4 linked regions of the Homo sapiens genome follow. The protein of the gene in region 1 purifies or fractionates together with the protein of each later gene. This does not show direct contact. Each region holds a gene or a part of one and is shown in the gene's direction. Other genes may lie near its edges. The genes, in order: BSG, BTAF1, SYMPK and DNAAF5.

Evidence for each region.
Region 2: the proteins of BSG (region 1) and BTAF1 purify together in Homo sapiens (affinity purification with mass spectrometry; 4 studies listed by BioGRID and IntAct, with this or other methods). This does not show direct contact.
Region 3: the proteins of BSG (region 1) and SYMPK purify together in Homo sapiens (co-immunoprecipitation; 5 studies listed by BioGRID and IntAct, with this or other methods). This does not show direct contact.
Region 4: the proteins of BSG (region 1) and DNAAF5 purify together in Homo sapiens (affinity purification with mass spectrometry; 4 studies listed by BioGRID and IntAct, with this or other methods). This does not show direct contact.

The regions. Positions count from the first base shown.
Region 1 is NC_000019.10:575,593-582,612, forward strand, and holds part of BSG (basigin isoform 1 precursor), read left to right. Parts: intron 1-2,181; coding exon 2,182-2,529; intron 2,530-3,907; coding exon 3,908-4,064; intron 4,065-4,786; coding exon 4,787-4,869; intron 4,870-5,053; coding exon 5,054-5,190; intron 5,191-5,722; coding exon 5,723-5,999; intron 6,000-6,713; coding exon 6,714-6,738; intron 6,739-6,921; coding exon 6,922-6,985; 3' UTR 6,986-6,990; intron 6,991-7,020.
Region 2 is NC_000010.11:91,926,763-91,933,782, forward strand, and holds part of BTAF1 (TATA-binding protein-associated factor 172), read left to right. Parts: intron 1-4,619; exon of another isoform or gene 4,620-4,758; intron 4,759-7,020. UniProt on the Homo sapiens protein: Regulates transcription in association with TATA binding protein (TBP). Removes TBP from the TATA box in an ATP-dependent manner.
Region 3 is NC_000019.10:45,860,147-45,867,598, reverse strand, and holds the start of SYMPK (symplekin), read left to right. Parts: upstream 1-4,451; 5' UTR 4,452-4,541; intron 4,542-5,571; exon of another isoform or gene 5,572-5,699; intron 5,700-7,452. Other genes in the region: FOXA3 (hepatocyte nuclear factor 3-gamma), read right to left, coding at 3,074-3,142. UniProt on the Homo sapiens protein: Scaffold protein that functions as a component of a multimolecular complex involved in histone mRNA 3'-end processing. Specific component of the tight junction (TJ) plaque, but might not be an exclusively junctional component. May have a house-keeping rule.
Region 4 is NC_000007.14:721,969-729,705, forward strand, and holds the start of DNAAF5 (dynein axonemal assembly factor 5), read left to right. Parts: upstream 1-4,730; 5' UTR 4,731-4,752; coding exon 4,753-5,347; intron 5,348-5,621; exon of another isoform or gene 5,622-5,708; intron 5,709-5,901; exon of another isoform or gene 5,902-6,966; intron 6,967-7,694; coding exon 7,695-7,737. UniProt on the Homo sapiens protein: Cytoplasmic protein involved in the delivery of the dynein machinery to the motile cilium.

The DNA.
Region 1 (7,020 bases):
TGAGCACTGGGGTGGGTGGGGAGGAGGGCGGGTGGGGGCGGGCAGCCTTATCCTGCGGGGCTGCTTGTGTACAAGTACCACGCGGCCTGCCTGGCCCTGAGCCCTGGGCAAGGAGGCGGAGGCTGTTTTTAGATGAAGGTGACTTTACTTGAGAACATGGGTTACGTCTCATGTGGCCAGAATCGAATTCTAACCTTTCTGGGGCTGTGGCCGAGGGTCAGGCGCCGTCCCTCCTCCTGCTGCTCATGGGTGGAGGCTCCTGGTGCGGCGGGCGAGATGGGGTGGTCCGTGGGGTGGGGGCGCTCTGCATTGTCCCCGAGGAGCCTCTATGGAGGCTTTCTCTTCCGGACGCCCCCCCACCCCCAGTGACACGTCAATACACAGACACCAGCATCATCAGCATCCGGAGGGACACAGGGTTGTTCCATCCAAAGCCTTTTGGTCCCTTTGGGAGCGATGCTGCCCGCTGAGAAGCTGGCGGACCCAGCGGGAGCACCGGGACCGGTGCAGATGGCGCCTGGGAGCCCGGGACTCCTGGAAAGGTGGCTGGGGGCAGCTCGGCTGCGGGCCCCACCTGGTCCTCCTCACTTTCCTGTGTGCCCTGCCCTGCCTGGAGGTGGGGTGAGGTGAGTCAGGGGCCAGCCCTCTCCTAGCACCCCTGGGTGAGGAGGATGTGGAGCCCAGCCCTGCAGGTCTGGAGGATGAGGAGAGGGGCTGCTGCAGGGCAGGAAGGAGCTTGCCAGCTGGGCAGCCTCTGGCTGTGCTTCCTGCCCTGACTCACCTCGCCCAGCTCTGCACATAGCTGCCAGTGTTGCAGTCTGGGAAATCTTAACTCCCAAGAAATGTAGGTTACCAGGAGGAGATCCCTTTGTGAAAATGGCACTGCCAGCCAGGCGCGGTGGCTCACGCCTGTAATCCCAGCACTTTGGGAGGCCCAAGAGGGTGGATCACGAGGTCAGGGGTTCAATACCAGCCTGGCCAAAATGGTGAAACCCCGTCTCTACTAAAAATACAAAATATTAGCTGAGTGTGGTGGCAGGCACCTGTAATCCCAGCTACTTGGGAGGCTGAGGCAGGAGAATTGCTTGAACCCGGGAGGCAGAGGTTGCGGTGAGCTGAGATTACACCACTGCTGAACAGAGTGAGACTCTGTCTCAAAAAAAAAAAAAAGAAGAAGAGGAGAAAGAAAATGGCGCTGCCAAAACTTGTCAACTGCGCCTGCCCAGAGCTCACCTGAGGTGCTCAGACGTGAACATTCCTGTCCCCGTGGCCTTGGGGGCCGTGACCTGTGCACTGCCACGCAGCCTCGGAGCCGTGTGCACGCATATGCACGTGTGTATGTGTTGTGTGTGTTTGCAGACGTGTGTCCTTGTGTGTGTGTGTGTGTTGTAGCGGTGCCTGGGGAGTCTGACCTCAGAAGGTGCTGTGGGGAGGGCTGCAAGGTCCTGGCGGGAGGAGGCACTCCCCACGCTTCCCCTTGGGCTGGGCTGTTCCTGGCAGGCGAGTGCTAGGCACAGTGTGAGGTTCTGTGTGGATTCTGCTGTGCTCCTTGGCAGCTCTGGGGGCCTTCCCTTGCATTTCGAAGGAAGGGGAGGCGTGTGGCTGGAGGTGAGAGGCCCTGAGGCCCTGCCTGGCTCCCAGCTTCCCAAATCCGCCTCTCTCTGGGTCGCCGCCCTCAGAGATTGCTGAGGACACGAGCTTTCCACCCACGGGCTGTCCTAACGGAGCCGGGCTAGGGGCTTCTGGACAGAGGCCGCCTGCCCCTTTGGGCTTTGGGGTTTGTTTTTCTCAGCAGCTCACCCGGGTCTCTGGGGTCAGGGTATCGGGCAGAAGTCAGAGGACGGTGCGCTTGGGACCTGAGCTCTGGGCAGCCCTCGGGGCTCAGGACTCCTGGCTCTTCTGCCCAGTTTCATGTGTTTTGTGTTTTGAAACCACGTGTGGTCCCACAGTTGTGCCCTCAGAAGCCGCCGTGGCTGCCGTGAGGTAGCAGTGGACGGGACGCCCACGGTCTTTCCCATGCCATGCTGTTTCCAGCCGGGCCCCATCACTCTCCCACAAGCTGAAAGGAAGTGGCTTCTCCACCAGCCCTGGCTGGGAGTCCTGTGGGCGAGGCCTTCCCCAGGAGCTGCCCTCCCAAGTGCCCCAGGCACTAACAAGACCCCACGCGTGCTCTCCCCACAGCCGGCTTCGTCCAGGCGCCGCTGTCCCAGCAGAGGTGGGTGGGGGGCAGTGTGGAGCTGCACTGCGAGGCCGTGGGCAGCCCGGTGCCCGAGATCCAGTGGTGGTTTGAAGGGCAGGGTCCCAACGACACCTGCTCCCAGCTCTGGGACGGCGCCCGGCTGGACCGCGTCCACATCCACGCCACCTACCACCAGCACGCGGCCAGCACCATCTCCATCGACACGCTCGTGGAGGAGGACACGGGCACTTACGAGTGCCGGGCCAGCAACGACCCGGATCGCAACCACCTGACCCGGGCGCCCAGGGTCAAGTGGGTCCGCGCCCAGGCAGTCGTGCTAGTCCTGGAACGTGAGTGGCGGGCACCTCCCTCCCCGCCTCCCTCAGTTTCCCTCCTGTGCCGCTCGCCTCCCGGCTCCTGCTCAGTAGAACCCAGACGCCTCCTCCCCTCTCCGTCCCGCTGTGCCCCGTTGGGCCCACCGCCTGGACGGAGGGGCCCGGACCTGAAGGGGGTGGGCTCGCCGCCTGACCACCAGCGCTGGGCGGCCTGGCTCGGGGCAGGCAGGGCTCTGCCCTCCAGCAGGTGGGTCCTCGTCCTCCCCTCGACCCTCGTGCCATCCGTTCCGTCGTTTCTGCTTCCCCGGGCGCCTGCCCGGCTCCCTCCCTGAGCGTCCATACTGCAAGCCTGAGGGGCCCTCCAAGCTCAGCCCAGGCTTGCAGGTCTCAGAACCTTCTGTGTCCTTCGCAGCATCTCGTTCTAAGGGATTTTCAAATTTCAATTCCTAGCGGGAATATTGTAAACTAACCAAGAACCAAGAGATTTGCTTGGTTGGGGATTGGCAGAAGAACCGGGGTGCTCCCAGCACTGCTGGAGTGCCGTCAGCCTGGGGCTGGGGGGATGTGGGGCCACCTGAGTGCCTCCTAGAGAAGGGCACGGGAGCCTTGGCCGGGGGTGCTGTGGCTATTTTTTTTTTTTTTCCTGGAGATGGAGTCTTGCTGTTCCCAGGTGGAGTGTGGTGGCACAATCTCGGCTCACTGCAACTTCCGCCTCCCGGGTTCAAGCGATTCTTCTGCCTCAGCCTCCTGAGTAGCTGGGATTACAGGCATGAGCCAACATGCCCAGCTAATTTTTTGTATTTTTAGAAGAGACGGGGTTTCACCGTGTTAGCCAGGATGGTCTCGATCTCCCGACCTCGAGATCCACCCGCCTTGGCCTCCCAAAGTGCTGGGATTACAGGCGTGAGCCTCCGCGCCCGGCCACCACCGCGCCCAGCTGGCTACGTTTTTAGAAAAGAATTTCCAGTTTGTGCTGGGGCTGCTACAAGAGCTCGATGCCCTGGTCCCTGCTCAGGGACGTGGGTGGGTGCCTTGTCTGTCCCCACACCCTGGTCCCAGCCTCGTGTGTCTCTGGGCAGGAACATCGCCAGGCGGGGCCTCTGGGTTCCCAGCGCCTTAGCCCAGGGCCCGCCAGCTGCCAGCGAAGGGTGCCTTCCCGAAGGGGGTGCCTTCCCGAAGGGGCCTCCTCAGCAGGCGCTGGGCTCTTCCCTTCCCGGAGGCGTGGCCAGAAGTTCCCCTTGGGCCTCCGGTCCTCGGGGCGTAAGGGCCACGGTGTATTTTTGGGATGAAAACCAGTCCTTCCCGGGGAGGAGCCGCAGGTTCCTGGGGGTCAGGCAGGCAGCGCGGGCCGTGCTCCTCCACTCTGCTGACCGCGTCTCGCCGGGCCTTGCAGCCGGCACAGTCTTCACTACCGTAGAAGACCTTGGCTCCAAGATACTCCTCACCTGCTCCTTGAATGACAGCGCCACAGAGGTCACAGGGCACCGCTGGCTGAAGGGGGGCGTGGTGCTGAAGGAGGACGCGCTGCCCGGCCAGAAAACGGAGTTCAAGTGAGTGCCTGACCACGCCATGCCGCCACCTGCCCCTTCTCACGGCTCTCTTGCCGCCAGCGGCCTGTGGTCCGTGAGAACAAAAGACCGGTCGGCAGGCTTGATCCAGGCGGAAGTTAGGGACCAGCTCCGCGCAGACCCCCAGAGGGAAACCCCAGGGAGGGGTCTGAGGGGCGTCCTTGTGAGGCAGGGGGCTCCAGCAGCCCTGGCAGGAGTCCCCATTGCTTGCTCCTCACTAGGTCCCGGGCACGAAAGGGCGCCACACTGCCAGGTCCCGGGCACGTGTGCGGGCCTCCCAGGCTCTGTGCTCCTGGCACAAGAGGGCACCACACTGAGGCATGCCCTGCTCGGACCCCAGACGCTGTCATGGCCGGAGCTTTGTCATAACTGGGGCTGGGACGGCCCTGGGAGCACAGAGCCTTTTGTTTTCAGGCTGACTGGGAAGACGGTCACAGGGTGTGGGGTGCAGAGCAGGGACCAGAGGTGTGGGGTTCATCAGTCGGGGAGAAGGGGGTCTGTTGGTTCTCTCACCTGTGGGGTCTTGCCAGCCTGGCTCTGTCCTTGGGGCCGCACGGGGACCCCAGGAGTTCTTTTGAGGTTCAGACTTGACTGGGACAGTTTTGCTTTTTCACTGTGCCGTGGTTGGGCCCCTGGAGAACCCTGGGTCCTTGGAGGCGTCCTGCAGAGCTGGTACGCGGCTCACCTGCCTGCTGTGGTTGCAGGGTGGACTCCGACGACCAGTGGGGAGAGTACTCCTGCGTCTTCCTCCCCGAGCCCATGGGCACGGCCAACATCCAGCTCCACGGTGAGTCCTGCAGCCAGGGGTACCGGGCACCACCGACTGTCGGGAGAAGTTGTTGGCCTGAGGCACCCGGCACATCCCAGAGCCCTGGCCCCCTGCTCCCTGGAGGGGAACAGCCCTCCTGCGGGAGGCCGGGGATGGGGGCGGGCCTGCGGTTCCAGGCTCCTCTCTCTCACCCTCCTGTCAGGGCCTCCCAGAGTGAAGGCTGTGAAGTCGTCAGAACACATCAACGAGGGGGAGACGGCCATGCTGGTCTGCAAGTCAGAGTCCGTGCCACCTGTCACTGACTGGGCCTGGTACAAGATCACTGACTCTGAGGACAAGGTGAGAAGCCAAGGAGGCTGGGGGTCCTGGACCCAGCCCTCAGGACTGGGTGAGAGGCCTAGACTGGGGGTCCCGGACCCAGCCCTCAGGACTGGGTGAGGGGCCTAGACTGGGGGTCCCGGACCCAGCCCTCAGGACTGGGTGAGGGGCCTAGACTGGGGGTCCCGGACCCAGCCCTCCGGACTGGGTGAGGGGCCTAGACTGGGGGTCCCGGACCCAGCCCTCCGGACTGGGTGAGGGGCCTAGACTGGGGGTCCCGGACCCAGCCCTCTGGACTGCAGCCCTCCAGACTGGGTGAGGGGCCTAGACTGGGGGTCCCGGACCCAGCCCTCAGGACTGGGTGAGGGGCCTAGACTGGGGGTCCCGGACCCAGCCCTCCGGACTGGGTGAGGGGCCTAGACTGGGGGTCCCGGACTCAGCCCTCCGGACTGGGTGAGGGGCCTAGACTGGGGGTCCCGGACTCAGCCCTCAGGACTGGGTGAGGGGCCTAGACTGGGGGTCCTGGACTCAGCCCTTGCCTTTGGTCCCCTAGGCCCTCATGAACGGCTCCGAGAGCAGGTTCTTCGTGAGTTCCTCGCAGGGCCGGTCAGAGCTACACATTGAGAACCTGAACATGGAGGCCGACCCCGGCCAGTACCGGTGCAACGGCACCAGCTCCAAGGGCTCCGACCAGGCCATCATCACGCTCCGCGTGCGCAGCCACCTGGCCGCCCTCTGGCCCTTCCTGGGCATCGTGGCTGAGGTGCTGGTGCTGGTCACCATCATCTTCATCTACGAGAAGCGCCGGAAGCCCGAGGACGTCCTGGATGGTGAGCCGTCTGCCCTCCTGCCCACATGCCCTGCTCTCGGGGTGGCCCAGGGCCACTCCTGGTCCGTCCCTGCCAGCCCCACCGCTGACCCAGAGCTTGGAACTGAGGAGCCCCAGGCAGGGAGTTGATGGGACCCCGAAAGAAAGTGTGGGATGGAGGGTCTAGCCCCGGGCAGCTGCGGCTCAGTGGGCAGCGGGACCCCGGGAGGAGGAGGCGGCACCTCCGCCCCACAGCCTCACCCGGCCCTTCCCTCCCGCTCACTTGGCTGCAAGCCAGTGTCCTCCGTGGTGAGCCGGCCCTTGCTGCTCTGCATGATCAGGCTCGGGAACCTGAGGTCAGCCATGCTGTGCTCCGGCAGCCCCTGCCTGCCTCCTCGCGGAGCCCTTCTGCCCCTTGGGCTGCGTGTGCCGGGGCGAGGCCTGTGTGGGGCCTGTGATGGCAGCTCCTGGAAAACGCTGTGGGGCAGGGGTGAGGCCCACGAGGCCATGGGGACAGCTCACCATGGGGAGCACACCTGCAGGTGGGGAGGGCTGCCTTTCCCCACAGCACTCAGAAGATGCACGTGGCCGGGGCTGATGAGCTGCCCCGAGCCACCCCTGGGGGTCACTGAGGGCAGGGCTGGCAGCACAGATGCCCCTGCTCGGGGCCTGAGTGGGGCCAGTGCTGACAGGCTGTCCTCTCGTCCTCTTTTTCATGGCGGCGGTCCTTCTTCAGATGACGACGCCGGCTCTGCACCCCTGTAAGTTCCAGCTGTGGGGGTCGGGGGTCCCAAGGAGCGGCCTGCTGCCCCAGGCCTTTAAAACACAAAGGCAGAGCCCCTGGGCTTCAGTATTCGGGGGTCCTGGGGGCCGGGGTGGGCAGGGGTGACTTGGAGAGAGTGACTTGCGGGGGACACCCTCTCACCCGGCCCCTCGTGCCCCAGGAAGAGCAGCGGGCAGCACCAGAATGACAAAGGCAAGAACGTCCGCCAGAGGAACTCTTCCTGAGGCAGGTGCGGTGGGCGGGAGCTCCTCCTGAGCCA
Region 2 (7,020 bases), on another chromosome or scaffold:
CTCCTTTTCCTGCCTTCCATGGCATCTCATTTCAATCTGTTCTTCGCTTCAGTCATATTATTTACTGATTTGAAGATTTGAACATGAACATGGTAATCTTTCTAATTAATACCTTTAGTTGTTTCCTATTGCCTTAGGATAAAGTCCACATTCTCAAACAAACATATCTTACCAAGTCCTTTGTGATCTGGTTCCTGTGTCATCTTTTTAGATTCATCTTGTGTCAACTTCTCTGTACTTCCCCTTCACCTTCTTCTCTCTTCTATCCTCCACCCTCCCCAGAATTCATTTTGTTACCCCCTACTGTTTATCTTTGGAACACTTCTTAGCCCCATCTCAGGTATGGCTAGTTCTGACCTTAGTGTGTTTTTTTGTTTGATTTTTTTTTTTTTTGAGACAGAGTTTTGCTCTTGTTGCCCACGCTGGAGTGCAATGGTGCGTTCTTGACTCACCATAACCTCCACCTCCCGGGTTCAAACGATTCTCCTGCCTCAGCCTCCCGAGTAGCTGGGATTACAGGCATGCACCACCACACCCGGCTAATTTTGTATTTTTAGTAGAGATGGGGTTTCTCCATGTTGGTCAGGCTGGCCTCGAACTCCTGACTTCAGGCGATCCACCTGCCTCAATTTTTTGATCTAAGCTTATATATTACCTTGTTCAGGACATTTTCTCTGGTTTTACTTCATCTGAGCTATTTGCACCAATACATATTCCTATCAGTCATAATATTTATATTTTGTAATTGGTTAATTGTTCTCTTACTTGCTGGATTAACATAAACTCTGAGAGAAGGAAATGTGTCTTTGATTTTTCCATGCTCAGAATGCCTGGCTCCTAGTGGGTGTTCAGTACATTTAAAAAAAAAATGAATGAATGATTTTGCTTCTTGCTTTGGTACCTTTTGAGTTGCCATATGAGTTGCCTCATAAAGCAAAATAATGGTATTCAAAGATATAACAATTATTATTTAAATTATTCACAAGAAACACTGAAAGCCTGTAACATATACTAATTTGTTTTTTGCTGAGGTTGACTTTGTGGAAGCAAGTCAAGTAACTAGTGAATGACTAGCTGACTTTCCAGCATCCGCATCTTAGGGACAACATTGTTCTCTACTCCTACATTTGTAGGAGTATGATTTTACCGTAATTTGTGCATAGTAGACTATTTCCAGTGTTTTTCAGTGAGTACTTTTGAGTTTAACTGCCTTTTTTCTTTTTTTTTTTTTTTTTTTGCAGTAAGGAAAACTTTCACTATAGCTTTTTAATATTGGCCATTTTCTAATTTTAACAATCATCGGAATATTTTTTTCTTTTTAAAGCTATCTCCTATAGGAAGGCAATTAGAATAATTTTTGAAGTTTATAATATAGTAAATTCTGTGATAGCATGGCCATTTATAATGCAAAATTGATATGATGTATTTTATGTGGTCAAATTTTTTAGACCCTGCTTAATAGGCTTGGTTTTACTGTACTTTCAGTTGTAAGAATGTGGCAGATTATGAAATGCATGGCCAACTCTTGATCTGTAGCTGAATTACATCTTGCAAAAATAACTTTGTTACTCTCTAAAATTGTAAATACAATCATAGCATTTGAAGTTCTCTGTCAAATCCAGTGAAATATCACTGGAAAATGATATGACTCTTTTAAACCCTTAGTAAAAGACCCAAAATCCAAATGTAGGAGTAGAGAACAATGTTGTCCTTAAGATGCGGATGCCGGAAAGTCAGCTAGTCATTCACTAGCTACTTGACTTGCTTCCACAAAGTCAACCTCAGCAAAAAACAAATTAGTGTATGTTACAGGCTTTCAGTGTTTCTTGTGAATAATTTAAATAATAAGTGTTATATTTTTGAACACCATTATTTTGCTTTATGGGGCTTTTTCTCATTATCATGTGTTACTTAGTTGGGATTTTGCCACCAACGGTAAAAGCAACCTTTGCGATCGCAGCACTGCACTCCAGCCTGGGCAACAGAGCAAGAATCCATCCCCCCCCCCCCCGCCCCCCAAAAAAAGCAACCTGAGATGGATTTCTTTGGCATTTTTGTTGTTTGTTTGTTTGTTTGTTTTTGGAGGCAGAGTCTCACTCTGTCCTCCAAGCTGGAAAGCTGGAGTGCAGTGGCACAATCACGGCCTCAAGTGATCCTCCCACCTCAGCCTCCCCAGTTGCTAGGACCACAGATGCATACCACCATGCCTGGCTAATTTTTTTTGTATATTTTGTAGAAGTGGGGTTTCATCATGTTGCCCAGGCTGGTTGCAAACTCCTGGGCTCCAGTGATCCACGTGGCTTTGCCCCTAAAGTGCTGGGATTACTGGTGTGAGCCACTGCGCCTGGTTTAGGTTTATTCATTGGTGGGGAATCTGTAGCTGTGTTGGGAACCATGACTTAATACAATTTTTTAAACAGCTTGTTTTTGCTACCTTTGCCTGTTTATGCCACAATTAATGGAACTGATCATTGTATATTGGCTAGTTAATAGGAACATAGTTTTTCCTTAATCAGCTAGAGAAAGTTTCAGAAATATATAGTTTTCCCTCAGCGATCTGTGCTGTAAAGGTCATGTCTAAAATGTCTAGACAGTACTTATAATATGACTGTTTTAAAAGCCATACCTTAGATTTCTCACATATCTTTGCATTTGAAAATGTTACAGTGTTCAGAAAGGGTTCAGAAAAAACAAAAACACATCCTCTTGTGGAAGAAACAAATTGCTACATATAGCAGACCTTTGCTCAATTTTGTTAATTTTCTCTTTGCACTGTTGATACTTCAGAGCAACATTGTTTCAACAGGCCTATTCTGTCAAATAAAAGGAAGTTTCTTGATGTAGGGGACGTTCAGTGGGTCCTGGACAGGAAAATGTTAATGTAGAAAAAACTACCTTAATTACCAATAAAGGACAACACAGGTTTTCCAGGCCTATTCCTCCCTGTTAATTTATTTTTAATAATTTTTTTTTAATAGAGATGAGGTCTCTCTGTGTTGGCCAGGGTGGTCTTAAACTCTTGCCTCAAGCATTCCTCCCGCATTGGCCTCCCAAATGCTGGGATTACAAGCATGAGCCACCTCACCTGGCCCTTATTGTTAATTTCAATCCATTATAAGATGACAGAAGGAACTATTGTAAATTATAATTCATCAAATATCTCATACTTTAAAAATTTAGAGATAAACTAGAAAAAGTAGAAGAGGCATTAATCAAAGCTTTTCCATTTCAATCCCAATGGTAAATTCCTCCTTATTTCTTTGGCGTATTTCTCAAGGTACTAGTTTGAATTATTATTTTAAAAATTTTTTAATTGTGACACACATAAAAATAGACTGTTCTAACCATTTAAAAATACACTTTAAAATGTATTATGAATTTTACATATTAATACATAATATGTATTAATAAGAAGTTTTAAAACCACCCATACTGCTGCTAAAGAACCTAGATTAGTATGTACTATGTTTTGTCATTAAGATAAAGTCATGCAAGAGGCTATAGGTTGTTCGATCAGGGATGGAGGGTAGAAAAAAATGTCTTGAAGGAAATAGCATAGCTTGGTTGTACATTTTCACCATTCTTCATTTAACCAATATTTACTGAGTGCTTTCTATGTTATAGGTGCTAGAGGTATAGCAGAGAAAAAAACTGTACTCTCCATTCTCATGGAGTTTATGGTCCAGGGTAGAGTGGGGTAACTTATCTAGCAAGCACCTGCCCTTACACCTGGCTTTGGTATGGTTTCACACCTTCATATTGATTCTTAGTGTTCTGTGTGATATCTTTATGTTTAAAACAACATAACATTAACATAGTTTCAAATTACCCACAACATGACCTAGAAAGTATATGTTTAAAAACACTAGAGAATTTGTTGGAAGTTGTTTCTTTTGACCTTAATGATAATATGTGCACTGTACTAAGTTCCACGTATTAAGTACACACTGTACACTATACTAAGTAATGGTCATTATCTTTCCTTACTTCCTGAGTAACACAGAAAAGTAAACATTCAAATCATCTATATTTAAAATTTTACTGTACTTTTGCCACGTGTAAAAAATGTATAACTAAATGGCTACTCTTGACTGGTCATGCTTTTTTAGTTAAGGCCACAAAGCTGTCTTTTTGAGGTATTCTGTCAGTTGACCTTTCCTAATTTATCAGAGAGGTTAAATATATTTTGAAAATATCAGTGAGGCTTTTTGCCCCTCCCCTCCCGAGATGTTTTAGAGTGGAAATACAGTATGTATTTGTTTATTAACTATGACGTAGTAATCTAGGACATGTTTTATTGTTTAAAATGCATGACATTTCTTTCTGTTTATTTTTATGGCTTTACTGTTATGAATTAACATAATGCAAACATCTGGAGAGGAGAGGGGTTAGATTGCAACTGCTAGCATAACCTCTACTACTATGTACTCTTTCCTTTTTCTAGGCAGTCTTTAGAACAGTTGCCTGAAATCACAGGTTACATGAATCATATCTTGTTTAGCTAATTCTCGGAATTGACATCCAGATTGAAAATGGGCCAGATTTCTTATTCTCAATAAATTTATAACCAGTGGATATTACAAAATATAATTTTCTTATGTTTTACTTATCTTCTATAGTCTTTGGTACCTTCCATGCAACTTGACATCTGTTACCTGTGTCTCCTCCATCTGTCTGTCTATCCTTCAGAGAATGAAGAATGTTACTTTTTCCTGCTAGCTGTGTGCAACAGAAGTTTTAGCCAAAAGTAGTATGGGAGTAAGTACTGTGTTCCCTCAGTCAGCCCTCCTTTTAACTTTCCCTTCTCTTCTGACCATCTAGCTTCCTTCAGACCTCTCCCTCACCAAGGGCCCTGTCTACCCTCCAACATAATACTGACTCTGTCTCACGTTCTTTTCCTCTTCCCCACAAGTTCACTGTACCAGCCTTTTCCACCGTGGCCTGGCCCTGATGCTTACCCTGCTTGCCTCATAGCTGGCTATCCTGAGATAACAGGTCAGACTGCCCTCTTGTCAGATCTTTGTCTGCTCATCTCTTTGTTCTTCCTTTTATGTGGTGTCCAATCTGCTGTCCTGAAGAGAGGAATGGAGAACTACGAAAGTGGCTTTAAATCAAGAGAATCAAAGAAGCATTCTTGTGTCTCCATTCCTCTATTCAGGGAGGCAATTTTGGTTACCATCCAAAGTGGAAGAAGTAAGGATAAACAGGCTTGGAATGGATGAGAGAATGAGCTGATCTGCTACCCTCAGGGCATTTGGCTGGTGGGAGAGCAGAGGTGACCTGACATAGCATTGGGATAAAAGGATCTGCAAAAAGGAGAATCAAGAGGAACTGTGTGTCTGTGGGACAGTATCAGCAATTAGGTTAGAGAGGAGTCTAAGGTCTTTGGGCAGGAGTTCTAAGTGAAGCTGGGTAGCAGAGGACCAAAGGAAAAGTTTAAGAAGGATGGAAATTATTGAAGGAATACAGTGCCTATTGCATGGCATTTTTCAGCTTGCTATTTGGGACAAGCGTAACTGCCTCATTCAGAAGGCTGAAGTACTGCTGTGCTGATCTTTTCAGTTACTGAAACATTACATTACCAACTGATTTTTTATGTAAAACTGCTGTCACAGATTAAGGATGTTTCTCAAAGGAAGCAGGAAAAAAAAAGGTAATATAAAATATTTTTTCTTTCCTTAAAGTTGGTTCTTAAACTTGTCCCCAAGAAACTTGAACTTTTCCTTAAGTATAGTTTTAGTTACAGTAAATGTCAACTACATAACAAATATTTGAATACTGTGCAAAGTGTTGTGCGAGACAAAAAGAATGATTGAAGGAGATGAAGCCTAATGAGGAAAATTAGACCTCATGTGACAAATTAATGTGAGAGATGCCACAAAAAAATATAATAAATACTTAAGTAGCTGTTCAAGATGAGAATTCATGTGGATTTCAGAAAAGGAAGTAATCTCTGTTGCATAGTAGTTTGAAATGGTTTCAAGAAGGTGAAGAACTTCAGCTGAATCCTGTTGGATGGGAGCTAGCTGAACAGTTGAACAAAGAGAAAAATACTTTATTTGTTTGCTGTAGCACATTTTATTCTCTTGTTAGAGAAGCAAGCTCAGGCACACCCGAAGATCACCTCTAGTGGTGTATCTGGTTAAATTCCAGGTGATATACCCATATTCTCAGCTGTGCCTCCCACCAACAGTTCCCAGTCTCACACATGGGGCCATTATATCTGCACAGCTGCCTGCTGTTGCAGTGAGGCAGAGTACATACCCACTGCAACCCCAACCAGTGACCATTCTGGGGATCTGGCAGAAACTGGCCAGGAAACCACCCCCTTGAGGAGGGGTGAGCCACTGTAACCCTAGCTTGAAGGGGTGTGAGAGACATTCTGAGTGGAGGAAACAGTATAGGTAAAATTGTGGAAACCAAAAATACCCACATTTGGGAGATACTTTTTGTTTTGGATTACTTTCTGGTAGGTAAGTGTGAGCCATTGAAAGTTTTAAAGTAAGGTAGTGATTTATTCGGGGGCGTTTTAGGAAGTTAATCTGGCAACAGGATGACAAGGCAGTTGGGAGTGTGAAACTGGCACTCTCAGATGGCCTGGATTTGGGGAATATTTGTTCTGGATATAATTTAAACAAATAACAGTATACAGTTTCCTCAGGGAGAAACTGATGAGAGTTGAGCAGTCAAGGATTGAATATGAGTATTCTCCCGATATTCATATTAAGAGTATTAAGAATAGGAGAACTAAGGAAAGAAGAGTTTGGAGAACAGGGTAATATAATGTGCAACTTAGGAAGGAAAGTATTGTAAGAATGGGGTGCTTGCTGGTCGCAGCTGTCAAAGAAGAGTCAAGAAAAATTGACCTTGTAAAAAACTATTGGATTTGGAGCCTAAGAGTTCATTGGTGACCTTCAGGTGTGGTATTTTGGTGTAGAAAGATGGAACCTTGATTTATATGGATTAAATTGTGTATGATGAGGAAATAATATTTTAAACACTTGTTCAAGATGCTTGGCA
Region 3 (7,452 bases), about 45 Mb from region 1:
CATGTTGGCCAGCCTGGTCTTGAACTCCTGACCTCAAGTGATCCACCCTCTTCGGCCTCCCAAAGTGCTGGGATTACAGTCATGAGCTACCATGACGAGCCACCATCTTCCTATCAATCTATCTATCCATCCATCCATGCATCTATCTATCTATCTATCTATCTATCTATCTATCTATCTATCTCCCTCCCTTCAACAAATCCATTCCCCCTCACCCCAAGTCTTACAGTGAAATTGCAGCCACAGTTACTCCCTTCCCCCATGCAGGCTCTCCCGCTGGTTGGTGGCTTCGGGTCCCCTCCCCAGAAAAAGAAAAGGGATGAGGTGAGAAGGTGATGGATTAGAGGGGTCCACAGAGTTTCCAAATCCCCCTATACCTCCACCCCCCATTTCTGCAACCCAGTCAGGCTCTCTGGTATTGCAGAGTAAGACAGACAGGGACCCCAGGGCCCTCCTTTCTGGCTCCCCACCCACCCGGAAGTCCTCCTTGAGGTCCGACCTCAAGCACTCCAGCTGCCCTAATCCACCCTAGGCTTTCCCACGCCCCGGGGCTGGGATGAACCCCTGGTGTCCGGGTCTGAGCCGGATCTCCCCTGACAGGGTGGGGCTGAGATTGGGGGGAAGCCCTTGGGGGACCCGCACCCCCACACCAGGAGACTGGAATTTCTCCTCTTTCATTTCCTTATTGTCTCTGGAGAAGGGTGTGACAGGGAGCAGAGGAAGGCAGTGTGAAGCCAGAAGCCAAGTTTCTAGTCCCAGACCCAACCCAGGACCCCAGTGTTCTGCGTGCGGGGCTTCAGAGTTAACCACCTCTAAAACAGGGGAGCAGCTGGACCAGCTGATCTGCAAGAACCTGAGGCCAACAGGGATATCCCAGGATGGTAACTTTCCAAGTTCTTTCCAGACAGCAAGCTGCCCTGAGTGTTAACGTCACCCCAAGCGGGAGGGTGCTATGGGCAAGAAGTGGTTTGGGGACCCTCTCAGCTCTCAGTTGCTGGCTGAGTGTAGGTATTTCTCTCCCCATTGTTCTGACCCAAGGGGAAGAGGTGGGCTTATCTGATGGGAAGGCTGGGGAGAGCCTCAGACAGTATCACCCAACCATTTCCATTCCTCCAAATACTGACTCTCCCAAAATATGCCCTGAAATGCTGATTACCTCCAGACTGTCCCTCTACTATTATTATTTTTTGAGATAGGGTCTCATTCTGTCACCCAGGCTGGAGTGCCGTGATACGATCACAGCTCCCGGCAGCTCGAACTCCCAGCCTCAAGTGATCCTCCCACCTCAGCCTCCCAACCAAGTAGCTTAGACTACAGGCATGCCTGACTAATTAAAAAAAAATTTTTTTTTTAAAGACAAGGTCTCCCTATGTTGCCCAGGCTGGCCTCAAACTCCTGGGCTCAAGAGATCCTCCCACTTCGACCTCCCAAAGTGCTGGGATTACAAGTGTGAGCCACTGTGCCGGCTTTCCTTCAATTTCTGACACAATTTCCATACAAATTGTCCCCTAAACTTGGATCTATTCAGACTGTGCCCCAAATATCAACTCCTCCTGCCTAGACCCCCATCATTTACTTAAGATGTGCCCCCAAAACAACTGTAGTTGGTTTGTACAATTGGTCTGTAGGTGGTTCCCTTAAATCAGGTCCCCAGACTGAGTTCTGCAGAGGTCCAGCTGGGATCACCCCCACTACCTGGAACCCTCCATTTCCCACCTGGGTCTCTGCCTTCCGCATCTCACAACTGATACCTCCAGCCACCCTGCCTCCACCTCTCAACACTCCCAGTCCCTTTCCCTGTTGGCCCTGCCCCACCCCACGTGCACCTCACACCTCCCCAAACCCAGGACTGGCCCTTCCCAGGCACCTTGCCCAGCCCTGAAGGCCTGGGGATCCAGGAGTCCCACCCTACAGTTTCGAGCCCCAGACCCAAGACTCAGGCACACTGGGGCCCCCGCAGTCACCAGATCTTGACTCCTTGGAGAACCTAGCCATTCCTGCCCCACACCCCACCTCAAGCCCACAGTCCCCTTCCAGGTTAGAAGTCCAAGTGTCCAGACCCCCATAATTCTCAGACCAAGAACCCAACCCCCAGCCCCAACAACCTCACAACGTTGATTACAGAGTGAGGTAGCTAAGGTGTAGGGGTCGTTGCAGCAAGACGAATGGGGGTCAGACTTGAGGAAGGACTTTCTGTCTGTCCAGGTGAGGGGATTAGAATATGCCGCCACCCCCCACTCCAGGGAAGCCTTGTCTGAGGTGAGACTGGATGGGAATTTTAGCAATAGCTGGAGGTTGCTGGACTGGCGGGGAGCAGGGGAAGGTGCACAATCTAAAACTCTCCATCTTCCGACTTGGGGAGTCCCTGCGGAGGGTCATGGGTAGGGATGGGGGGGTGGAGATCGGCCCCTCTCCTGCCAATGCTGATGGCTACATCTTCTGCTCCCAGATGCCCAACTCTAAGCCACCTGTTATTTCAGACTCCAAAAACGAAGCTTCATCTCTGAGCACCCCCATCTCTGACCCCTGAGCACCAATCCCTATGTCTGACCCTACCTTAGATTACCAGCTGATCCTTAGCCCCGAACCCCGGTTCTTTAACACTGTGTGCTGGCCCTGAGCTCCCACCTCAGTCTTCCCCTTAATGGTGACTCCTCCTCCATCTTTTAGTCTTTCTTTCCCTCCAACTTTGAACCTCACATCCTGAAACCCCCTAGTCTGTCCCCTACCCTGGAACTCTGATTCCTATCTTTGGTTTGTACATATAAATCCCTTGCTTTTTGGGGCTCCAACACCCGGCTCCCAAGTTTAAGGTGTGACCCGACCCTTGGCTAAATTTTCCTGACTTCCATTTTTAAGCCCTGGCCGCGGCGAGGCTGCCCAAACAGCGCTCCCATCCATGCCTCGTCCCCGGTCCCCGACTTCCACACCTGGTCTCCGTGTTCCCAGTTCCTCAGCTGCCCAAGTAGACGCCTTTGCCTCCATTTGAACCCACAACCAGTCCCTGCTCCATGTGAGCCCACACCCCGATACCTGCCCCCAACTTCCCGCTCCGCCATCCCCGAGGACACACCTCGCCCGCCTCCGGGTAGTAGCTCCACTCGGCCAGGTCATGGGCCTCCATCTTCACTGAGCCCAGCATCCCCCGGGCTTACGCCCCCACCCGCCCCCGCTCCGGCCCCGGGGGAACGGAGCGCTCTGGATCTCTCAGCGGGCACGGCCCGAGCTCCCACCGGCGCCCGCCCGTCCGACCGCCCGGGGTACGGCTGTCCCGAGCGCCGCGGGAGGCGGCCACGCTTTATAGCCGGGACACCCCCGCCCTCGCCCGCCCCGGGCTCCCCTCCCGCCTCCCCGAGGGCGGCGCGCTCGGACTGGGGCGCCCCCTGCGGGATCGCCAGGAGACAGACCTCAGGCGCCGGGGGCCGCAGCCCCAGGACGCGACAGCTGGGGGTGATTCAGGAGTGAGGGAGCTGCCCGCAGCGACGCTGCAGATACCAAGGGCCCCGAGGTCAGAACTCTGGAGCCTTTCTACCTCAGGGGGCTTCATCATCTCGGCAGGAGAGGACGAAGAGCCAGAGCCCTGCATGACCGTGGCGGAAGAAAGGGGAATCAGAACGCTAGGGCCACTATGCGACTACAAGGACCCGTAAAAGGTCCCCGAAATCACATCCCCATTGGACAGACAGGAAGACTGAGGCTTCCGACGGCTAGAAATGCTTAACTTGGCCGGGCGCGGTGGCTCACGCCTGTAATTCCAGCACTGCAGGAGGCCGAGGCGGGCGGACGAATCACTTGAGGTCAGGAGTTTGAGACCAGCCTGGCCAACAGGGTGAAACCCCATCTCTATTAAAAATACAACAACTAGCTAGGCGTGATGGTGCGTGCCTGTTATCCCAGCTATTCGGGAGGCTGAGGCAGGAGAATCGTTTGAACCTAGGAAGCGGAGGTTGCAGTGAGCCGAGATCGCGCCACTGCAGTCCAGCCTGGGAGAGAGAGCGGGACTCCGTTTCCAAAAAAAAAGAAAGAAAGAAAAGAAAAGAAAAAGAAATGCTTCAGACTGTTGAAAGGGTCAAGAACAAAGATGGAGGGGATCGGGGCCTCTCCGCAGACCCCACTAGGGCAACAGACCACCTCCCCTCCAAGACCCAGGAGCTTCGCTGCCCGAACTCCGCACTCTCCAAGACCAGCCAGCCGTCCAGGGACTCAGCACCACTGAGAACTCCATTTCCCAGAATGCTCTAGCTCCCTTTCCGCCCGGTGCCTCCGAAGGGACTACATTTCCCAGAAGGCCTAGCCGGACCCAGAGCCGGAAATGAAGGGTCTGCTCGCCGTAGTATGGAGGCGGGCAGAATGCCGCTCGCACGGGACGAGGCATGGGCGGGGTCGGGCTGTGCTCTGGACTCCATTTCCCGGCGGCCCTGGGTGTGTGGCGCGTGCGCACCGTTCCCGGCGACGAACGGAAGATGGCGGCGGCGGCGGCGGCGGAGTGTAGGAAGAGGCACTGCTGAGGGGGCGCGAGGGGAACGGAGGCCAGAGCTGCGGTGAGCGGGAGGCGGCGTTTGGGCCCGGAGACGAAAGGAGGAGGCTCCTAAAGAAGCAGGGGCTCGGGCGGGGAGGGCATCGCCGTGGGGAGAGGGGAACAGTGGCTTTCGCGACCCATGTTTCTTCCCTTGCTCAGGACCCTTCCTTGGCTCCCTAGTGCCCTCGAGGCAAAGTTCCAACGTGGCCCCCCGGGCGCCACCGCCCCGCAGACCTCGCTTGCTTCGACTCGGCCTCTTTGCTTTTTCCCCCACCTCTAACAGCCGCCCTGGCCTTTCGGTTCCTTAAACTTGCCATGCGCTTTCCCGCTTCGGGGATTTTGCACAGGCTGTCCCTTCTGCCTGCAACATCCTTTTACCCATTCGGCTTGGCTAACTCCCATTTCATCCTTCGGGTCTCGGCACCAACGTCACTTCCTCTGCGAAGCCCTCCTTCCCTGCCCTCCATCCAGAAATCCGCCTGTTAAATGCTTTTGTCGGTCCGTGTTCCTTCATGTCACGTGTGGTCTAATTTGTTATCCGACTCTTATCTGTGTGCTGTTTTATGATGTCTATGACCGTGTGTTCCATGAAGGTAGGGACTAGGTTTGTCTCTGTCGCCACTGTGTTCTCAGCACAGCGCCAATCACGCCGGAGACGCCCAGCTAATGTTCGTTGAAGGAATAAAAGATACTCCTAGAGCCAGTTTGGGGAAACAGGGTAGTCATCAGATTCCTAGGTAGCAGTGGGGCAGGGTACCACTTCTTAACGAGTACATCGAGAGGGAAGGGGAAACAGTGATACTGTTCATCATAGCAAAAGGCTACACGCATCCCAAATGTTCTTAAATAAGAAGATTGGCTGAAAGAAACTATAATACATCCACATAAAAAATACTATGCAACTCTAAAAAGGAATGAGGTAGATAAAAGGAAATGATGAAAATCTCTATACACTGATATAGTGGCCTCCAACATATATTAAGGGAAAACAAGTGAAGTGGAGGTTGGTGTTTATTGTATATGCTTTTTCTTTTTTTTTTTTTTTGAGACAGGGTCTCACTCTGTCGCCCAGGCTGGCACGATCCCAGTTCACTGCAACCTCCACCTCCCTGGTTCAAGTGATTCTCCCACCCCAGCCTCTCGAGTAGCTGGGATTACAAACGTGCCCCACCACACCCAGGTAATTTTTATATTTTTAGTAGAGACGGGGTTTCTCTGTGTTGGCCAGGCTGGTCTTGAACTCCTGACCTCAAGTGATCTGCCCACCTCAGCCTTCCAAAGTGCAGGGATTACAGGCCTGAGCCACCAAACTCGGCCTGTGTAGGCTCCTTTTTTTTTTTTTTGAGACAGAGTCTCACTCTGTCACCCAGGCTGGAGTGCAGTGGCGTGATCTCGGCTCACTGCAACCTCTGCCTTCCAGGTTCAAGCAATTCGCCTGCCTCAGCCTCCCAGGTAGCTGGGATTACAGGCACACCACCACGCCTGGCTAATTTTTGTATTTTTAGTAGAGATGGGGTTTCACCATGTTGGTCAGGCTGGTCTTGAACTCCTGACCTCGTGATCCACCTGCCTCCGCCTCCCGAAGTGCTGGGATTACAGGCGTGAGTCACCGCTCCCGGCCCTGTGTATGCTCTTTTTGTAAATGAAAGGGAAATATGTATATATGGGTTTTTTTATTTTCATTTTTTTTCCTTTTTTTGCATAAAATCTAGCTCCTGCAGGAGAATTTTGTGTATGTGTGTTTAAAAAAGAACAAAACAAAACTGAAAGCATAAACCAAAAAGCAGAAGAAGAATGAAACAGGGTAAAATATTTTGGTTGATCTGAATGTATTATCATGAAAAAAGTGGAAATGTTTATTATGGGGTTTTATTTTATTTTATTTTATTTTTTGAGGCAGAGTCTCATTCTGTCGCCCAGGCTGGAGTGCAGTGGTGTTGGGATTACAGGTGTGAGCCACCATGCCCGGCCTGTTTTTTTTATGTTTTGACTGGGGACGGCATGCCATGCCGGTTGTCTGGTGGCCAGGATCCTTGGCTTACGTAAACAGACCTGGGGGTAAAAAACAATTCCTTTCAGATAAACAGTACTGTAGCATAGTGGTAAGGAAGATATGCAGCCATGCTGCTGACTCTGCCTCTTACAAGCTATATGCCTTTGGTCAGGTCACTTTACCTCCCTGGTCTTCAGTTTCCTCATCTGTAAAATGAAAATTAAAAATACTAACTCCCAGCCTGGGCAACATGGCGAAACCCTTCTCTACAGAAAGTACAAAAATTAAATGGGGATTCGCCTGTAGTCTCAGCTACTTGGGAAAATGAGGTAGGAGGATCGCCTGAGCCCGGGAGGCAGAGATTGCGGTGAGCTGAGATTGCGGCACTGCACTCCAGCTTGGGCAACAGAGTGACACCCTGTCTCAAAAAAACAAAAAATGTAAACCTAACTCATGTATATTAATTCTAATATATACATATTAATTCATTTAAACCTTGGTGTCTGAGGTTTAAATGAGTTAATATGTATATCTTAGAATTGTGCTTAGCACATATTAAGTGTTCTCTCTCTCTCTTTCTCTTTCTCTCTCTGTGTGTGTGGGTTTTTTTTCTTTTTTTTTTTAATTTGAAACGCAGTTTCACTCTTGTTGCCCACGCTGGAGTGCAATGATGTGACCTCGGCTCACTGCAACCTCCTCCTCCCAAATTCAAGCGATTCTCCTGCCTCAGCCTCCCGAGTAGCTAGGATTACATGTGCCTGCCACCATGCCTGGCTAATTTTTTTGTATTTTTAGTAGAGATGAGGTTTCACCATGTTGGCCAGACTGGTCTCAAACTGCTAACCTCGGGTGATCCACCCGCCTTGGCCTCCCAAAGTGCTGGCATTATAGGCTTGAGCCACCGTGCCCGGCCGTGTTCAATATATATTAACTGATTATT
Region 4 (7,737 bases), on another chromosome or scaffold:
AGTTTCCAGGAGTTTAATTGTGATGTGTCTTAGTATGGGGTTTTTGGAGGGCTTGTCCTATGAAGCCTTGTTGAGCTTCTGGAATCTGTGGATTTATGTTTTTCATTGAATTGGGGGAGTTTTCAGCCTTTTTTTTTTTTTTTTTTTTTTGAGATGGAGTCTTGCTCTGTCACCCAGGCTGGAGTGCGGTGGCATGATATTGGCTCACTACAACCTCCACCTCCTGGGTTCAGGCAATTCTCGTGCCTCAGCCTCCCCGAGTAGCTGGGATTACAGGTACCCACCACCACACCCAGCTAATTTTTGTATTTTTAGTAGAGATGGGGTTTCACCATGTTGTCCAGGCTGGTTTCAAACTCCTGACCTCAGGTGATCTGCCCGCCTCGGCCTCACAAAGTGCTGGGATGACAGGCGTAAGCCACTGCACCTGGCTAATTTTTCTATTTTTAGTAGAGATGGGGTTTCACCATGTTATCCAGGCTGGTTTCAAACTCCTGACCACAGGTGATCTGCCTGCCTTGGCCTCACAAAGTGCTGGGATGACAGGCGTGAGCCACCGCGCCTGGCTAATTTTTGTATTTTTAGTAGAGATGGGGTTTCACCATGTTGTCCAGGCTGGTTTCAAACTCCTGACCTCAGGTGATCTGCCCGCCTTGGCCTCACAAAGTGCTGGGATGACAGGCGTGAGCCACCGCGCCCAGCTGGTTCTTATGACTCTGCTTTAAAATTCTTGGCAGATGATTCCAACATGTGACCTATCTTGGAATTTACATCCGTTACCTTACCATGTTCAGGTTGTGGCTTTCCTTGTTCTTGGTATGACAAGTGATCTCCAGATGTATCCTGGACATTTGGGTTACGATGTTTGCAGACTCCTTGTCCTACTCTATTCCACCAGGCAGTTGCTCTGTTCAGGTCCAGGGTGTAGATTGCAGCCTGTTTTTGTGGTCTGTCATTCCAACAGCAGTTTCGTCTTCAGAGCCCTGGCACTGCCCTCCTCGTCTGCTTTATTCTTCTGGCTCTCCTGGGACTGCTGCTCATTTCCCATGGGTGCTGCCTGCAGGGGTGAAAGGTACCTCCCTGGGCCGCCTGGTGTCACTGGGCTACCTTTTGCTGTGTCAGGACAGAACATGCTCGTTCTGGGTCTCTTTGTGCTAAGAGAGGAAGGGCAGATTTCAGGCTCCTCTGACACTACCTGTGCAGTGCAGACTGTCCACTCGAACCCCAGTTGCACAGCACAGGTTAATGCACCTGCAGCAGCTTTAAAATCGGCCCTGAAAGCAGACTGTGGGGTGAAGGTGGCAGCTACCCTCTAGGTCTCTGTTGGGCGTCCCCTTTCCCAGGGCTTTGGCCAGAGAGAGGAGGCTTTCCTTGGAGAATTTCTGTCTGTGCCTGTTGGCTGTTCTGGGCCACAGGCTTCCCTGGGGACTAGTGCAGGAACACATGAGAGAAAAAGAAAACCCAGGGGACCCACCACCTTGCTATTCCTCCAGTCCAGAGGTCTCCAGCCCGTCTGTCAACTCTCAAGCTCCTTTCCTCGTCGCCTGCTATGTGCAGGGTATTTTGTTGTATTTCAATGGGAGGAGCAAGGAAAAGTGAAGTCCCACCACCGTAATTCAAGCGCTTATTCTTTCTCGTCTTCAGCACTCACTGCCACAGCCTTCCCAGGGCTCCCGACCAATCCGTTCAACGGAAGCCAAAGGGGTCCTTGAAAAATGCAGACTCGATCTTGCCAATGCTCCCACCTTGAAATCCTCAGTCTGCCATGTTTTAGGACAGAGGCCCCCATGGCCTGGCCCCACCCATCTGCTCACTCCCTGCCTGCTCCCCTGTGACCAGGGTCAGCCTCCCTCCCTGTTTGCTACCTGAGGCTGCCGTAACAAAGCACACCAGGCTGGGCAGCTGAATGAAACAAATTTGATTTCTCAAGATCAGGGTACGGGCTGGCTCCTCTTGAGGTCTCTCTTCATGCTCATACTGCATTCTCCCTGTATGCACGTCTATCTCCAAAATTTCTCCTTTTATGAGGACAGCAGTCATATTGGATGAGTGCCCAACCTCATGACCTCATCTCACCTCAATCACGTCTGCAAAGACCTTGTCTCCAAACAGGATCACTTCCTGAACTATGGGGGTTAGGACTTCAGCATATGAATTTTGGGGAGACGCCATTCAGCCCGTAACACTCCCATGAGGCCTTTGCTCATGCTATTTCCTCTCTCTCCAACACTCCCCGTCTCCCACCTCCGCCCTTTCACCTGGCTATGTGACATGGTTTGGCTGTGTCCCCACCCAAATCTCATCTTGAATTGTAGCTCCCACAATTCCCACGTGTTGTGGGAAGGACCCAGTGGGAGGTAACTGAATAATGGGGGCAGGTCTTTCCTGTGCTGTTCCTATGATGGTGAATAAGTCTCACGAGATCTGACGGTTTTATAAGGGGGAGTTTCCCTGCACAGGCTCTCTCATTTTCTCTTTGCCTGCTGCCATCATGTAAGATGTGACTTGCTCCTTCCCGCCTTCGGCCATCATTGTGAGGCCTCCCCAGCCATGTGGAACTGTGAGTCCAGTAAACCTTTCCCTGTATAAGTTACCCAGTCTCGGCCATGTCTTTATTAGCAGCGTGAAAATGGACTAATACACTGTGTTTACTTATTCTTCATATTTCACCTCTGCTACCATTTGTTCAGGGAAGCCTTAAAAGTCTAGTTCAACATCCCTTGACACTCATTCTCTCAGGACCACCACGGTTAAACACATACTAATTTATCCTTCCATTAAGGGCTATCTCATCCTGCAAGACCCTAAGATCTGGGAGAGCAGGGACCATGGCCAGTTTCTACATCATTGTCATCCTGTCCCACATGTTGCAGACAGTGCCTGGTCAAACAAATGCCTGTTGGAGGAAACAATGAATGAAGGTTACTGAATATGCTACATAACAACTTTTCAGAAGTACTGATGGGCCGGGCGTGGTGGCTCACGCCTGTAATCCCAGCACTCTGGGAGGCTGAGGCGGGCGGATCACGAGGTCAGGACATCGAGACCATCCTGGCTAACACAGTGAAACCCCGTCTCTACTAAAAATACAAAAAATTAGCTGGGCGTGGTCGTGGGCACCTGCAGTCCCAGCTACTTGGGAGGCTGAGGCAGGAGAATGGCATGAACCTGGGAGGCAGAGTCTGCAGTGAGCGGAGATCGCGCCACTGCACTCCAGGCTGGGCGACAGAGCAAGATTCCATCTCAAAAAAAAAAAAAAAAGACGTACCGACAAACACCACCATTTTGCAACACGAAGATCAACAACAAAAAAGAAGGTCAAACTTGAAGTTCTGTCCTAAAATTACACACATTCTGCCTTTAGAAAACTCAGTGCATGGTCACAGATGAGAAGTGCCTGGCTAACCAGACTTGGGGACTCCTGGTTTGCAGTGAGTGCTGTCAAACTCGCGTTCTAGGCTGGGCTCACAGCAACTCCGACTCCAAGCTGTTTAGGCGCCTCTGTCTCCACTCAAGTCCACAGTCAAGGTCACTACTGTGAAACACTGTCTTGCTTTTAATTTCCAAGCTGCCTTGTTATTTCTTGGGAGTAGGCCAAGCTAACTTTAGGAGGAACTTAGTTTATAGTTTAACTTTGAAACAAAGATGATAACAGCCCTTTCCTGAAGCCAACCTCCTTCTTGCCTGGGGACCAGAATGCTTTTGTAAGACTAACACATGAGCCACAAGATTAGAAATTGTGGTTTGAGTCATGCAGCTAGAGGCCACAAGATTCCAAACCTCCCCAGTTGCTCCTTAGGATAACACCACTATCATCAACTCTAAGATTGGTGCTCAAGATATTTTTCAGGCTCTGCATTCTGATGCACCAGGTGCCACCACCCACACCACTAATCTGGCTCAACCAGTTCTGTGATCCCACCCAGGAACAGAAGACAGCAAGAGAATCAACTTTGACTCTCCATGGTTTCATCTCCAACCCGACCAATAAGCACTGCCCTCTCCCTGGCCCCCTACCTGCCTAATTATCCTTAGATGACCCATCTCAGGATTTTCAGAACCTGGTTTGAGCAATAAAGCTCCAGTGTCCTTTAGCCAGTTTCTGCATGCAGCCAGTTTCTGCATGCAGCCAGTTTCTGCATGCATTAAACTCTCTATTGCAATTCCCCTGTCTTGATAAATTGGCTCTACCTGGGCAGCGAGTAAGGCGAACCTATTGGGCGGCTACGCCTGAGATCTAATGACAGGCTGCACGTGAAGCCCAGACCAGGCACCTGTCTTACACCACAGGGGGATCCAGTCCACAGAACCAGCGTCCTTCCCTCCTGGAACGGACCTTCCCAAAGCCAGAGGGGCTCTAGGCGGCTCAAACAGGGGCTTCCCGGCTACCCTGGTCCCAGGCGGGACCACTCAGGTTCCTTCTCCAAGCCCCCTAGGCTGCAGGGCAGGCTTCCCTAGGGGCAGGCCCAGGCCTATAGCCCGGGACCCGCATCCCGGGCGAGCTGCACCCTCCCGAGACCTTCCCCATCTGTACAATGGGGACAGGACAAGGCCCAGCAGGCAGGCTGGCGGGGGTTCCGGCGACAGAGGGGGACAGCGGGCGAGCACGACAAGAGCACAGGCCCACGTGCGCACCGGCGGGGAGGAAGTAGCCCGGCGCCCCGCCCGCAGCGCGGACCGGAAGTGCTGCCGTAATCTGCGCTGAGAGTCGCGAAAGCGCTGTTCCCCTTAGTGACCGGCGACGCGGGCAAGATGGCGGCGCTGGGGGTGGCGGAGGCCGTGGCGGCCCCACACCCGGCTGAGGGGGCCGAGACGGCTGAGGCGGTGGAGCTGAGCCGCGCCCTGAGCCGCCTGCTGCCGGGGCTGGAGGCCGACAGCAAGCCGGGCCGGCGGCGCGCCTTGGAGGCCCTGCGGCGCGCGCTGGAGGAGCCAGGCCCTGCCGCCGACCCCACCGCTTTCCAGGGCCCCTGGGCGCGCCTACTGCTGCCGCGCTTGCTGCGCTGCCTGAGCGACCCCGCCGAGGGCTGCCGCGCGCTGGCAGTGCACCTGCTGGATCTGGGCCTGCGCCGCGCCGCGCGGCCCCGCGATGCCCTGCCGCGCCTGCTGCCCGCGCTCGCCGCGCGCTTGGCCGGCCCCGTGCCCGCGCGCCGCCCGCCCGAGGCCTGTGAGGAGCTGCGCCTGGCGCTTGTGCAGCTGCTGGGCCTGGCCGTGGACCTGTGCGGCGCCGCGCTCGCGCCCCACCTGGACGACGCTCTGCGCGCGCTGCGCTGCTCCCTGCTCGACCCCTTCGCCGCCGTGCGCCGCGAGAGCTGCAGCTGCGCCGCCGCCCTGGCGCAGGCCACGCCCGGTGAGCACCCCGGGCCCCGCTCCCACACGCCACCCCACACTCTCACCCCCACCTCCACCTCCGCGGCCCCTCTCACAACCCCCGCGGCTCGGCCCCGCCCCCCTCCACGCCCGCACCCCCCAACATCCCGGACCCCCCATGCGCCGCTTCCCCCACCCGCCTGCCCCAAAGCACCCCGCCCGGCCCCCTCCTCCCACCACCACTGCTTCCCCTGCCTCACGTCCCGCCACCAACGCGCCCTTCAGCTGCTCCCTTGTCCTCTACCCCCATGTACCTGTTTCCTGCGCTGCCACGTGCTCCTTGCCCCGTGACCCCTGTTCCTGCTTGGCCCTCACTCACCTCACTCCCCTGTCCCCTTGCTCCCCGCCTCCACCCTCCACGCCCCAAGCCCCGCCCCCCACCTGCCTGCTCCCTGTGCCCCCTCCACCTGCCTATCCTGTGCCATCCTCCTCCTTGCACGCCGCCCTCCCGCGACCCTCACCTCCCACCCTCCTCCCTGCCTGAGCCCCCTCCACCCCACCCGGGCCCACGAGCCAGCGCTTCTGTCCAGATACCTGGAAACCACCGCAGAAATTCCTGTTAGGCGGTTTGGGGTGGGGTGTGCCCTGATAGCTGCCCCCTTTCCTTCCCTCGGGGGCTTGCAGGACTTGCACCTGGTTGAGGGCACGCGCTTTGAGACTCTGCTCTGGTCATTTCACTTTCTGTCCCATTCATCCTACTCCCCTGCCTTTCCGCTCTGGCTTGGACCACTGTCCTAAGTGGAAGGAGGCCGCTTCTCCCCTCCACTTTATAACGTTCCCCATCTTTTTTAGAGCTCTGATCTGATCCGGTCGTTCCCTTTCCTTAGCTGGCCATTCCTGCAGGGTCTTGCCCTTTCCCTCCCCTGGCTGGGATGTGGAATGATAGCAGGCGCCTGCTTCCTGCTGGCGGGAAGGCTTTCCGAAGGAGGGAACACTGATGCTATAAATCCGTGGGCGGTAGGGAGCAGGAAAGCAGTGAGGGATCTGGCCAGCTCAGGCCGTCCCAGTGATGTCCCAGTGATGGTCTGAATGTAGTGGGAAGTGCAGGGGGTGTCAATAGAAGTGATAGACCCGAGTTCAGGTTGTTAAAAGATCACTGCAGCTGCGTGGAGAATAGATTCCAGAAGTAGAGGAAGAGCTGGACTTGGGGAAATGCCGAGATTTCCACGTTGGTTAACTTTGGATTTCACATGGTCCAGAACTCCTGTGGAGCTTGGGGAAGAACCTTGGGCTGGATGGACATGGCCATTGAGAATTCCTGGCATTTAATGTATTTCTTCTTCATCCTCAACCACTTCCCTACCCAGTCTGTACATCAGCCCCACGAGCTCCCTCCCTGGACCGTAGGTTCCACAGGACAGCACTGTGCCCATCTGTGCCCCAGCCCCAAGCGCAGCCTGCTGGGGTATGTGCTCACTGGTTGCTGTGGGGTGAGGGACTGTGCCTCTGCCTGGAGCATCCCCTCATCTCCAGCACCTCTGGCCTTCCTCTCCCCTGGGTGGGGGGCCTCACCTCTGGTCTCGGTCACACTGGGCAACGGCAGAGAGGTTGAGGCGCTCACCCAAAGTCTCACTGGAATAGCCGTTTCCCAGACGGGCCCCAAGTAGTGCAGAGCTGAGGCAAGAGGCGGCCTGGATGCCAGAGACCCTTTGGTTCTGACTTTTTTTTTTTTTTTTTTTGAGACAGGGTTTCACTCTGTCTCCCAGGCTGGAGTGCAGTGGGGCGATCTCAGCTCACTGCAACCTCCGCCTCCTGAGTTCAAGCGATTCTCCTGCCTCAGCCTCCCAAGTAGCTGGGATTACAGGCGCCTGCCACCTCTTGTTCTGACTTTCTGCGGGGACTTTACAAATAGGAAGTGCAGTGGCTTTGCCTGGAGTGGTGCTGGCCCAGCTTCCTGGAGGAGCCTGGGGTCTCGTCTCAGGTGGGGCTGGGAGTGTGGCCTCGCCTCTGTCTTCTGGGCTCGGCTTCTTTCCTCTGGCCAGTGTCCCCGTCAGGCCTCCACCTTGGCTTCAGCAGGTCCAGGCTCTCTGGTCTTCAGCCACAATGGGTTTGCACCCCCAGCCTTTCCCCGCTGGTCCTCCTAAGCCTCTGGGTTGCACAGGTGTCATCAGGGTGGGACGCTTGTCCCTGAGCCTCTTCCTGTGCCGGGCGGTACAGAGCTCTCCTTGGCAGCCTGGATTGTGTACTGTTCATGCAGCAAGGACCTGGCGTAGGAGAGGAAGGGAGGTGAGGAACTCATAGGCAGGCAGCCGTCCTCTGGAAGCCCACAGAGCTGGGCGAGGCGTGTGGGAGCAGCTCTGGTAACTGGGGGCCTCCCTGTCCCTCAGACCACTTCCACATGCAGTCGGAGTCTCTGATCGGGCCCCTGAT